Linked DNA regions of Homo sapiens: all the other regions are linked to region 3. The links come from fine-mapping of genetic effects on gene expression. A gene starts in region 3. Each other region holds a variant in brackets. All regions are shown on one strand. Distances are from middle to middle.

What was found. PIP is the estimated chance that this variant, and not a neighbour inherited with it, causes the effect. A credible set is the group of variants that fine-mapping cannot tell apart.
Region 1: its variant is the best candidate, but not a certain one, in a credible set for the expression of COQ8A in neutrophils (CEDAR, PIP 0.66).
Region 2: its variant is the best candidate, but not a certain one, in a credible set for the expression of COQ8A in whole blood (TOPMed, PIP 0.51).

What each region holds. Positions count from the first base shown.
Region 1 is chr1:226,985,260-226,989,430 of GRCh38, forward strand. It overlaps COQ8A (coenzyme Q8A), which reads left to right. Exons shown (of 15, transcript NM_020247.5): 14 at 1-81; 15 at 1,194-2,285. The coding sequence ends at 1,478. Among named protein-coding and RNA genes, the nearest start is that of COQ8A, 47 kb to the left of the region's middle. The variant C/CT (reference allele first, on the strand shown) is at 2,285.
Region 2 is chr1:226,974,129-226,978,299 of GRCh38, forward strand. It overlaps COQ8A (coenzyme Q8A), which reads left to right. Exons shown (of 15, transcript NM_020247.5): 5 at 3,321-3,395. Among named protein-coding and RNA genes, the nearest start is that of COQ8A, 36 kb to the left of the region's middle. RefSeq lists an enhancer at 1-313. The variant C/A (reference allele first, on the strand shown) is at 1,928.
Region 3 is chr1:226,937,811-226,941,981 of GRCh38, forward strand. COQ8A (coenzyme Q8A) reads left to right here and starts at 2,484. Exons shown (of 15, transcript NM_020247.5): 1 at 2,484-2,589. RefSeq lists enhancers at 1,154-1,845, 1,580-1,629, 1,820-1,919 and silencers at 2,190-2,499, 2,550-2,709.

The DNA of each region.
Region 1 (4,171 bases), 47 kb after region 3:
AGGGCTGCTGCCGACAGGGACAGGGAGACTGTGCGGGCGAAATCCATAGAGATGAAGTTCCTCACCGGCTACGAGGTCAAGGTGAGCAGGGTTGCGGGGGATCCCCTGGGCCTGCTGACCCAGGGCCCGGCTCCCTGTGTAAGAATGGATGAAAGCACAGGGGGCAGCTGCCCTCAAGGGGCCCCCAGAGCCCGGGCCTCCTTGGGCACGGTCTGAAAGCTGGGGCCCACCCCGGCCCATGCTGCCCTGCTGAGCGTGAGATTTTCCGAGTGGGCCAGTGAGTTGGGGACTTGTCGTGAAGCTCTTGTTTCTGCCTCTCACTCTTGCCCACTTAGGGCTTGGGGTTGGGCCTCGATTGAGCCAACGTGCAGAGCAAGTGGGAAGGGAAGCCCCAGCCCTCCCCTCATCGAGCCTCCCTGGGGGGAGTTGGAAGAAACCTTAGAAGCCTTTTAAATAAAGGGGAACGGTCTGTGCTGGTGCCGCCTGAAGCCACCCACAAAGTGGCATTTTCCGCTTGCTGCTTGACAGTGGGGAAGGAGTTAAAGAAATCCAGGTCAAGCCTTGGGTCTGCCGTCTCATAGGAGTGTCATTTGAGGCTTGTCAGTATCTCTGAGCCCCCCTTATCTCAGCTGTAAGCGCTCAGCGGGCAGCAGCTCTCTCCCGCCTCTTCCTTATGGCCACTCGCACTGACTCGATTCCTGGCCGCCCCGTCCCTCTGACCACCTTGGGCTGTCCCTGGCGGCAGCTCCTCTCCCCTGCTCTGCTGGCGGCGGCTTCCTTAGGTTGCTAGTTCCCGTGGGCAGACACACGGCTGCTGGGTGTGTCTTGGGTGGACTCTGGCAGGCTCAGACACGCATGGTGGGAGGCCCTGCCAGCTTAGGCCCACGGACTCTGTTCTTTTTGGCCAGAACAGTGTTTTGTTAAAACTCTGTATGAGTGCCACGAGGCGGGACGCATCCTCTGCACTCTGCCACAGGCCCCGCCACTCCCTTTTGTATCACATCAGCCCAGTCCATGTTACCCTCGTGTTCCCGGCCCCTGTGGGTTTGAGTTTATGCCCATTACCATGATGTAATCCAGTTTACAGCAGAGCTTTGAATGAGAACTCAGCGCCCCGGGCACTGTGGGAGGAACCCGGGCTGGTGGAGGGCTCTGGTGTCTCGCCGCCATTTATCCTTCCTCTCTTGCCCCAGGTCATGGAAGACGCCCACTTGGATGCCATCCTCATCCTGGGGGAGGCCTTCGCCTCTGATGAGCCTTTTGATTTTGGCACTCAGAGCACCACCGAGAAGATCCACAACCTGATTCCCGTCATGCTGAGGCACCGTCTCGTCCCCCCACCCGAGGAAACCTACTCCCTGCACAGGAAGATGGGGGGCTCCTTCCTCATCTGCTCCAAGCTGAAGGCCCGCTTCCCCTGCAAGGCCATGTTCGAGGAGGCCTACAGCAACTACTGCAAGAGGCAGGCCCAGCAGTAGGGCTGCGGGCCACGCCCAGGCCGGCTCCGCGGGAACTCTCTCCCTCAGACAGGCCAAAAACCAGTAGCGAGGTCGTGGTGATGCTCTTTTTAACTCCTTTGCCCAATAAGGGGGGTGGCTGCCTGGAGCCCCGTAGCCAGCGCTTTCCACGGTTTCTGTTGCTAAATGGTTGTAGGGTGAGAAGTGCAAGAATGAAGATGAAGCCCCACTGCTCGGTCAGTCTGCCTCCGTGTGTCCTCTGAAATAAGCAGATGAAGATGAAAGGGCAACTTTGTTTTCTTCTTTTTCCTGATGTGAATGTTAAGCAGAAGGGAGAGAGTCCTTACTCCCTTCCAATCTCTGTTCAGTGCAAAACCCAGAAACATGAACAGATACGATTGTGGGATTTTATCATCTGTGTAGTAGGTGTGTGTATGTGTTTCTAGAGTGAGATTTGTGTTTTCTGCCCTTTTCCTCTCCAGCCGATGGGCTGGAGCTGGGAGAGGTGCTGAGCTAACAGTGCCAACAAGTGCTCCTTAAGCCTGCGAGGCCCAGGCCTGTGGGGCTGGTTCTCACCTTTGACAGCTGAATGTTCCTAAAGAACTGCTGCCCCACAGTGAGGGTGGGAGCAGCGGAACAGGGAATGCCAGACACAGGCTCGCTGCTGCTGGAAGGCGGGGTGGGACTTCCTTCCTCTGTCCGGAGAGGCACAGGTGTCACCAGTTCCAGCCAAAGGCTCCTCACAGGCGCTGTGAATTTTTGTACAAGTCTTGTAATTATCGAATCAACAACTTGTTTCAATTTAATAAAAATGCTCATGGGAAGTG[C/CT]TTTGGCGCGTGTACCCTCTTCTGTATTCTGGAGAATGACGACCCGTATCTTCTAGCTCGTGGTGGTGGTTCTTTTCTGACCTGACGGTCAGCAGGTTCAGTGTCACAGCCCATTTGCAAGGGTTGGGACTGGTTCAGCGTGAGGCCCTTGGCCCTGAACCTGGAAGGCTCAGCCCCGTTCCCTGTAAGAAGGGAGGTGGGAGGGGTGGAGAACAGGAGGAGAGGTTGCGGTGTCACTGCCCCAGCCCCCGGGAGGCTGTACCACACTGCTGAAGCTGCTGTACCTGGTGATGGTGGCAACTGGGAGGACAGTGACACCTGCCAGCACGGCTGATGCCAGGTCTGCATCACAGTGAGACGTCTCCTCTCTAGACATCAGCTGCAGTTGAGGACCACGTCCTGAAAAGTGGCTTTTCCTGGGGCCAGACTGATTCCTAGATAACAGGACACACTGGACACTGAGCTGGGGCCCTTTCTACGGACCTGTGAGCAGTTGAAAGTGCATCTGCAGAATGCACAGGCCCAAAAGAGGCTTTGAGAGGTATAGGCTTTCAGGGTTCTTAAAGAAAGAAAATATAGTTTCTGAAATTTGGGATTGCCGAGTAGCAGACCCAGTGGGCTCCGGGACAGGATGGAGAGGCCTGGGTGGCGTCCGTGAGGCTGCCTGGCTAGCAGCGGCGCCCAGCACCACTGTCAGATCCCTGGCTGAAACTCTTGTGGCCCTCTTCTTAAGGGTATTTGCTGTTGTCTAGCAAACTCCTCTGCAGCACTCAGATCTGAAGCCATCGCCCTGCAGAGTAAACAGCAGGGGAAGAACCCAGGCCAGCCCCAGCCAGGGCTCTCACAGTCTCCTCTTCCTCTTGAACAACAAGCCAAACAAGTCAAGCAGCAGCATGCGGGGGGAAGGGAGAGGAGAACAACAGCAGCCAGCATTTGCTTCCCCAGGAACCACGACCATAACTGCTGGAACAGGAGAAGTTTTCTAAGGGAAAACTGGAATGTGGTTTGTGTGTCCTAAGTCTGAGAGCCGGCTGAGAACTAGAGCCCTCCCTGTGAAGACAGTGGGGATCACTGGATTGCAAATGACTTTAATCCCCAAGTAAAGCTGGCTCTGAAGCTGGCCACACATACTTATTCTTTTGTACCTATTTTGATTTTTACAGTATTGTGATGAATGACTCCCCGTGCTCACCCATTCACACTGAGACATGGGGCATGAGAACATGGCAAATCATGGCTTGATTTTCCCAGGGTCTGTGTCTTCGTGTCCCTAACATCTAGTGAAGGGCTGGACACCACACAACAAAAAAATATTTGTTACTGTAGGCTTTGGCGGTTACTCATAAGGACAAAACACTAAACCATAGGCTAGAAGTTAGATTCTGAGTGCATTAACTCCTGACACTCCAAGTGGGCCTTTTTACAGAGGGAAAAAAAAAAAAAGAGGCCCAGAGGTTAAGTGGCAGAATGAGGATTTGGAACAAGACAGTCTAGTCTTACAGTCTACACTAAGGGGACCAAACGAAGGGCTGGCAAACTATGATGGTCCAAGGGCCAAATCTGGCCCACTGCATTTTTGTAAGTTTTATTGGGGCACAGCCACTCTCGTTTATGTACGTAGCAGGCTAAGACTGTTTTTGCACTGAAATGCCAGAGCCGGGGAGCTGCAGCAAACTATATACACAAAGGCACAAGGATTTCTTAACTGGTCCTGGACAGAAAAGGGTTGCCAAGCCCTGTTCTAAAGCACTGCACAGCTGACACTACAGTAAACCAACATAACAGTATCAGCCACAAATGTCAATTCCATGGGCCATTGGAACCGGAAGTATTCTCCGAATAACTACTTAGCTGCCACCAGTTCAGGAGTTCCTTTAACCCCACCCC
Region 2 (4,171 bases), 36 kb after region 3:
GCTCTGATGACCTCCTAGAGGGACTTTTGGGAGGATGGGGCCTTGTGGGGGACTGGGCTCCAGAAGTCATAGGAGGTTGGCCTGCAGCCTGTGTTCCTGCCTGGGGGAGAGCCTGCCCCTCCCTCCCCTGTCATTCCTTCATTGCATAACTTCTCTCGGAGAAACATGTCAGAAGCTTTCCTGGAACAGGCCAGGAGGGAAGCAAGGCTGCTCACAGTGGCTTTAGAGCCTGGAGCTTGTGCTGGGGCTGGTTTTCCTCCAGGACGACCTTGCTGGCCACGTGGGCCAAGCCGGGGGCGCTCTTAGAATGTGGATCTGAGCAGGGAGAGGTGTGAGGTGTCCTGAGGGCTGTGGGGGTGCCGAGTGGGGTCCCACGAGGACCCGGGGAGTGCCGGCTGAGGTGCTCATCTTCTGGAGTTGCCTCCAGTGCTGGCTGGTTCTAATGGAGGGCAGAGGCTGGCCTGGGTTCCTGAGCAATGCGCTGAGTCTGGGGCGGGAGGGCCTCAGTTTATTCTGGGTTCACTGGTGCAGGAGCTCGTGAGGCCAAGGTCAGGGTTGCTGGCCAGCTGGGCTGGTTTCTGTCCCCTGGGGAGCCTGCCTGTCTGTCAGTGGGCAGCGCCTTGGCCTGGCACTGGGCTGGTCGGTCCTGAGGGACGTGTGGGGCCTGAGGCCTCCTCTGTGGAATGTTCTTTTGGTCATTTGTTTAATAACAGGTCCTTGCCAGTGGAGAGCTGTGTGCCTGAAAGTGGCCAGAGAACAGTTTGAGGGGGGTCCTGATGGAGGGTGATGAGGGGGACACACCTCTGCCTGCAGAAGGAGGAGCTCAATGTGGCCCACCCTACAGCTGTGGCATCTCCGGTAACCTGTGGATCCACCTGCCCCTCTCGTGGGCTTGTCTCTGGACTTGCTTCAGGCAGAGAAGAATCCAGACACAGAGAGACATTGGTGAAGGTCACTGCAGTGCACAGGCTAATGTTGCCTGTCTCCGTTTATTTCGCTAAGTCAGATCGTGTGCTCGAGTGCTGGCAGGGCAGAGGTGGGCAGGCATCAGGGAGTTAATGTTTAAACGGGGACTGTGTCTCCCAGCTCTGAGCCCAGGGCTTTCTACAGCGAGAGAAAGAGCTGATGTACCTGCCAGGCACCCCCATCCCAACACAGCAGACATCTGTACCATGTGTGTTGTCACTCCTGAGGGCCAGGAGGCTCAGCTTATCCTGCCCCATGCTGCCCAGTACGGAGCCGCCAGCCGCACGGGGCCTTGGAAATGCGGCTGGTCCACAGTGGGATGTGCTGAGTATAAAACACACATGGTGTTTGGAGACTTTGTGCACACACACAAGTGCAAAATATCTCTAATAATATTTATTTTGATTACTTGTTGAAATGATAACATTTTGGGTATATTAAGTAAATTATACTATTAGAATTCATTTTGCATGTTTCTTCTTGCCTTTTTCAGTGTGGCTGCTAGAAAAGTAACAATTATATGTGTGGCTTGCCTTCTATTTCTTTTGTTCTGCGCCGGCCCAGCCTTTTTGAATAGAGTCACGAGAACAACAGCAGCTGCTTGTGTGGCCTTTGTGTGTTCCTGGCCCGGCGAGTGCTCTACTCACGCCCGCACGACAGCCTGTGAGGCAGGGGCTGCCCAGACTGCTGGGGACGTGGAGGGTGCACTGTTGCCCAGGTGTGGGTAAAAATGTATCGCAAAAACATTTTTTTAAAAATTGAGTTGTCTTCTTTTTAGTTTTAAAATGTACTTTTCATTAAATTTTCAACAAGTTCTGTATTTTTCATAAAAGTCATGCATAATCACTGTAGAGAATTTGGAAACATGCAAGCAGATGCCAGTTTCCTTGCGCCTTAAACAGAGCGTCCTGGTGTGAGCCCTCTCCCCCAACAGCCCCCTGCTGCGATGTTGCCTGGCTGC[C/A]GGGCAGTGGGGCTGTGGCGCTGCGATGTTGTCTGACTGCGGGGCTGTGGGACTGCGATGTTGCCTGGCTGTGGGGCTGCGGGACTGCGGGGCTGTGGGACTGCGATGTTGCCTGGCTGCGGGGCTGCGGGACTGCGGGGCTGTGGGACTGCGATGTTGCCTGGCTGCGGGGCTGTGGGACTGCGGGGCTGTGGGACTGCGATGTTGCCTGGCTGCGGGGCTGCAGGGCTGCGGGACTGCGGGGCTGTGGGACTGCGATGTTGCCGGGCTGCGGGGCTGCGGGACTGCGGGGCTGTGGGACTGCGATGTTGCCTGGCTGCGGGGCTGTGGGACTGCGGGGCTGTGGGACTGCGATGTTGCCTGGCTTCGGGGCTGCGGGGCTGCGGGGCTGCGATGTTGCCCGGGTGCGGGGTGCGGGGCTCTCCGAGGCCGGCTCATCGTGCGGCCGCTCTGGTCTCAGCCCTGCCGGCCATGGTCACCGTGCCCAGCCAGGTGCTCTTCACCCTCTTTCTGCTCACCCATGCCTACCCGGAAAGCCAGCTACAGCTGGGTATAAAGGAAGAGAATACTGGCCCTGGGTGAGGTGTGGCATTAGTGGCACCTTCTGGGCTCCTGGGCAGGGGTGGGGAGTGGCTTTCTTGAGCAGCTGGGATCATTCATTGACTGATTTTTGGATAAATGAGGTGTTAGTGGACCTTGATTCGGAAGATTGTGAAAGAGGATAATGGGAAGGCCTGGCACCCCACGGTCCTCAGATGTCAGTGTTTGCCAGCCCCGCAGAAAGGGCAAGGTGGGCGAGAGGGCCTTCCATTACCCAGCGAGGGCTGCGCCTGAGCCCCGCGAGTTCCCCTGGCTTGGATTAGGGGGAGCCAAAAGTGTTCTCACTCTCACCACCAAGTGCTTTGTATGCCTGTGGCAACACCTTTCCTGTTCCAGTGAATTAGGGAAGTCTAGGTGATGGGAGGCTCTTCAGACAGACCTGAAGCGGGTGGTTGTGTTCTCAGGGTGCCCTGTGTGGTCGGGGTGACGTTGGTCTGTGGACCATCCCTGGTCCGTCTTCCCATTTGTGCTGGGTCCTTCCCAGGTGCTTCCCAGCTGGCATTACTTTGGGGTGTCCGTGTGCCCGTGAGCCTGTGAATTATCAAAGGTGATGGTGTGGAGTGGGGGATTCCTGAATCTTTTTCACTGAAACACCTACCTCGAGCCAAATGTTCTCTTAAAACAACAGGTGGCATCTCCCACCTTGTTCCCCACTTTTCAAAATGCTGGTGTGGCAGCGAGGGCCCCTGGTGCAAGCGGTGTCTGTGTGGTGCTGCCCCAGGCCTTGTGGGTGGGCGAGCGGGTGGCCCCAGCCCTGCGTGAGCACTGAGTGCCCGCCCCCTCCTCCTTGCAGGTCTGGCCGTGGGCCTGGGCTTCGGGGCACTGGCAGAGGTCGCCAAGAAGAGCCTGCGCTCCGAGGACCCCTCAGGTGAGCCGGGCCCTTCAGTGGGAGGGGCAGGGTGGGCCCCGGGAGGGTTGAGCCTGTCAGCCCCCAGCCCCACCTGTGCTCTGGGAGTGTCAGCCAGCTGGGCCGCATTTGCATGGGGTTCCACGTAAGTGGCGTCCCTGGGGTGATGAGGCTGTTCATACAGACAGATTGACCTGCTTTAGAGGGGGTGAGGCTGGAGGCCCTTCCTCCTCCCAGCCCAAAGTGGCCACCCAGCCCCTTCTTTTTGGCTGCCTGCACATCCACACGCCTTCTGCACACCTGGACACCTTACACACCCCCTGCACACCCACTGAACACCCACACACAACCCCTGCACACCCACCGAACACCCGCAGACCTTACCCCTTCCACACCCAGCGAACACGCGCACACCTTACACACCCCTTGCCCACCCACCAAACACCCGCACCTTACATACCCCTTGCACACCCACTGAACACCCACACACCTCCTTATACCTCCTGCACACCCACCGAACACCCACAGACCTTACACACCCCTTGCACACCCACCGAACACCCGCACACCTTACCCCTGCACACCCACCGAACACCCGCACACGTCACACACCCCCTGCACACCCACCAAACACCCACACATCTTACCCTCCACACACCCACGCACCTTTTTACATCCTCCACACACCCACCTCATACCTGCACACCTCCTTACACACCCTCTACACACCCACCACACACACCTGCTTACACAGCCTCCGCACCCACTGAACACCCGCACACCTCCTTACACACCCT
Region 3 (4,171 bases):
GGAAGATCCTGTCTTTGCATAGACTAGCTGGAGGTCATTTCTCTAGTAAATCAGACTGGCAGTCCTTGAAGAAAAACTAATGTTTGTGGTGGTGGGTTATGCTTGTCTTCAAGGTACTTTAGGAGAGAAGCTGGCCTTGGCATTGCTGGTGGAGTGGGACTGAGCTAGCATGGAAGCCACCAATTCCTGCCCCATGTTTGTGAAACTGAAGCACCACATCCTTCCCCCACTTAGCAGAAGCAGGAGTTGATGACAATCACATTCTCATCCAGCTGAAATCTGATGGGCTAGAGTTCGTAAGATTCAGGAAGTAACGAACCAGGAACTCTCTTATTCCATGGACTGTGGTCTGGGTCAGTAGGCTGGGAGAGCTTGGAGGAAACAGGGAGGGAACAGCATAACCGTGTAAGGGAACAGTTACTGTAGGAGGAAGCAACGGCCACCCTTGAAAGGCCTTGAGGCTTGGTCTTTTTCTCCTATGTGGAGAAAGGGAGCCAGCTGACCTAATCAAGGCAAGTTGTCAACTGTTTGGGGCAGTTACTTGAAACTTTAGCCAAAATAACTCCTTAATTGTCCTTTAAAATTTACTTTGTATTTAGTGTGGTGGAGATGGGGGAGGCAGAACATGGACTGCGGGGAGGGCATGTGAATGTGCAGAGAGGAGCACCCAACAGCCGACCAGTGCCCAGCCACAGACGCCACAAGGCACAGTCTCCATTCTCCTTGGAAGAAAGGCCTCCCCTACCCCTAGGAAGAACGGAGCCTGACACAGAGCTTGTGTTCGCCCATATCACACACACTTAGAATTCTGTTCTTGGGAACTCAGGCAGATCTCTGGGGAGCCGATGGGGGACTGTGAAATTAGGTTCACTTCTGGATTTCATTATAATAAAGCAGGCCCCTATCCCCAATTTTAGGCATCAACATAGAACAGCTAACTTTAAATTTTTCCAAGTGATAATATAAAACAAACGACTTTCAATTAAGTTAAATGTCAATATTTGTGAACCGAAAAGTACCTGTATCAGTTTAGAAATTTATGTTGCGAAGGTGAAGGACTCGCGCCCAGAAGACAGGTCTGTGCCTTTCTCCAAAGATGATTTTGAGGGCTTCAATATTTAAAGGGGAAAAGCAGGCTGGAGGGGGAAGATGGAAGGTATGTTCACATTATTGAAGCCACATGTTGCGATAAAGGGAGCAGGTAGGGCAACAGTTATGTATTTGGCGCTCAGTAAATCGGCACTTTACACAAGATAAGGTGAACATAGAGTGGAGATACTTCACCTTTAATCTGTAGCTATCTGCTTAGGAACAAAAGGAAAGGCAGTTGCATGACTCAGCTTTCAGTTTAATTTTTTTTCCTTTTGGCAGAGTGAATTTTCGTTTCACAATACCAAAAAAAAAAAAAAAAAAAAAGCGGGGGGAGGCTCAGAATAAGGAACAATCCTTTGGCTTGAGTATTTCATTTCATGAAAAACTAAATTGTTATTTCTTTTTTCCACAAGAACGATTAACAGAGCTGCAGACCAGTGTTTGGGGTCATCTGAGTGGAAATTGTCGAGCCGACTTTGGCTCATACGTTCCTTTTCTCGTTAAGGAGGGAGTGACGGGGCAAATCTGCGTGCTGCTGGTGGCGGTGCCTCCCAGGGCTGCTCGGCGGGGACGCCGAGGGCTGCACCCGAGCTCCATCCCGTGTTGGCTGCGCGCCCTCCAAAACCCCGGCTGTCAGCGACTGCGGGCACCTGCACGCCGACGAGACCGGCGGGCGGACAGCGACTCCGGTGAGGGTACTATCTCTCTACCCTCGGGGCGCGGGTGGCAGAGGCTTCCTGTTTTGAGGATGGCGCCACACAAAACAAGCATCCTTAGCCTGAAGGGCCCCGGCCGAAGGGCCGGAAGTGGAAGTGCGCGGCCTTGCCCGCCGCGTTTCCCCTCCTCGGAGTGCTTTTTGTGGACCCTGGGCAAGGGGCTCTTGCTACATAGAGAGGAGCAAAGAACAGGCATCGCCCGGTCCTTAAAGCGGCGGCACCCTCCACGCCCCGCAGTCGCGTCTGCTTGGTCCACAGCCTCCCCTCCCAGGCCCGCGCAGAGGCCCAGCAAGCACCAGTCTGGAGGCAACAAGCACGCAGGGGTGCCTTTGCGGCCACGCACACTGCATCGCAGTGAAAAAGGCTCCCGTTCTCAAGGCGCATGCGCGCAGGCCAGCAACTCCAAAGCCAGGCCTCCAGCCCCGGTTTGCTAGAGAGAAAGGTAGCCGGGAGGTGGGGAAAAGGAGAACAGGAGGGCCCTGTCCGCTAAGGTAGCCTCCCATTGGCTCCTCTTGCTCCGCTCTCGGTCGCGATTGGCTACGGGCCGGGAGCACGGGCCGAGCACGCTCCCACGCGCAGAGCGGCATTCGGCAGGCGGACGGCGGTGCAGCCAATGGGAGCGGCCCGCGGGGCGGGGCTTGTGAGCTGGGGCTCCCCCGGAGCGGGCGAGTTGGTAAACAGATCCGGAGCGCGTGGCGGGCGTCAGCGCGGTGGCCAGCGCGCAGAGGCGGGCGCGGAGGCGGCTAGAAGGTGACCGCGGATCCCAGCTTCCTGCAGCCAGGTAAGGCTGCCACCCGCCGGCCCGCCGCGTGCCCAGGCGCCGTCTGGCTGCGGCCAGAGCTGGGGTCAACACCCACCTCAGCCCTTCTTGCATTCTCTTCATGTGACAGCGCAGCTTCCCCGCGAGTTTCGCTGGCCGCGAGCCTCAGGTCCGGACGCAGTGGGGGCGCCTCAGTTGCAGGGTGGGTCCTCTGCAGCCGTCTCACGTCCCTGGGTCCACCTCAGCCCCTCGTTCCTGCTTCGGGGAGGAGACGAGGGCCACGTGCAGAGCCTTGGGTCCCTGGAACACGCCCGCTGCTTGCCCGACCGCCTTCCCGCTGCCGAATGCCCGTTGCCCATGCCCTTTGGTCGCCAATACAGCTTTGATGCTTCGCTTTCTAATAATGTTGTTCTTCACTCCCAGACCCCCTTGCACTGTGTGTCTGGGGCTCTAGGCTCGTTGCCGCTGGCTGCAGGTTTGGGTGAGAACTTTGACTTCCTTGGCTGGAGCCAGCTGTTGGGCTTCGCAGGTGGGAATTTTGTGTGAACTTGGGACAGGGGATCCTTTTTGATCCTTTCTTCCTTTCGCTTTTCTTTGGCCTTTCCTCTTCTCCAAACTCTGGGGGGTCTTGTGAGTGGTTTGGGCTTACTCCCCTAAACTCGAACCTTTCCGAGGCTCATTCTCACCCATTGCACAGAGGTAACAGCCCCTCTGCCAAACCCTCTTTGGGCGATGGGGAGTGCTGCAGGGGCAGGTTTGGGTGTTGGGACTCCCCATTTGGGTGAGAGATGTCAGGTTCCTGAAGGGTGAGAGGCTTGTGTGCAGTCTTCCAGCCTGAGTCGGGCCTACAGCCTGTTGAAAAACTTGTGCACGTTCACTTGGGCCTTGGATCTACGTGACAGGATTGAGTAGCTGGTCATGCCAGGCCTACCTGATTGCCAAAGGATTTGAACATTCCTTGATGCCAGCCTGCCAGTTGTCACGCTGTGGATGGGTAGGTCATCCTGGCAGGAGGGCTCTTGGGAGACTCTTCTTTTGGAGGAAGGCCTTTCTCCCGAGGAGAGACAAAAGGGGAGCTACAGGAGCAGCATCTGTAAGACTCAGGCGGCTGGGTGCGGTGGCTCACGCCTGTAATCCCAGCACTTTGGGAGTCCGAGGCGGGTGGATCACCGTAGGTCAGGAGTTCGAGACCAGCCTGGCCAAAATGGTGAAACCCCGTCTCTACCGAAAAAAAAAAAATACGAAAATTAGCCGGATGTGGTGGCGGGCGCCTATAATCCCAGCTACTCAGGAGGCTGAGGTGGGAGAATTGCTTGAACCTGGGAGGCAGAGGTTGCAGTGAGCCAAGATGGCGCCAGTGCACTCCCCTCTGGGCAACAGAGCGAGACTCAATCTCAAAAAAAAAAAAAAAAGGCTCAGGCAATGGCTTAGAGTGTTTTGTTCAGCCTTGCAAATGGTGCGGACTATGCAGAATCGTAATGATTTGGGGCCTAATGTTGAGCAACTCAAAGGAAAAGTGAACCAGGCAGAATGGGCACCTCCCTCAGAGCCAGTGTGTTATCTAAGACAAAGTTTTTCAACCTGTGGACTAATGACATTTTGG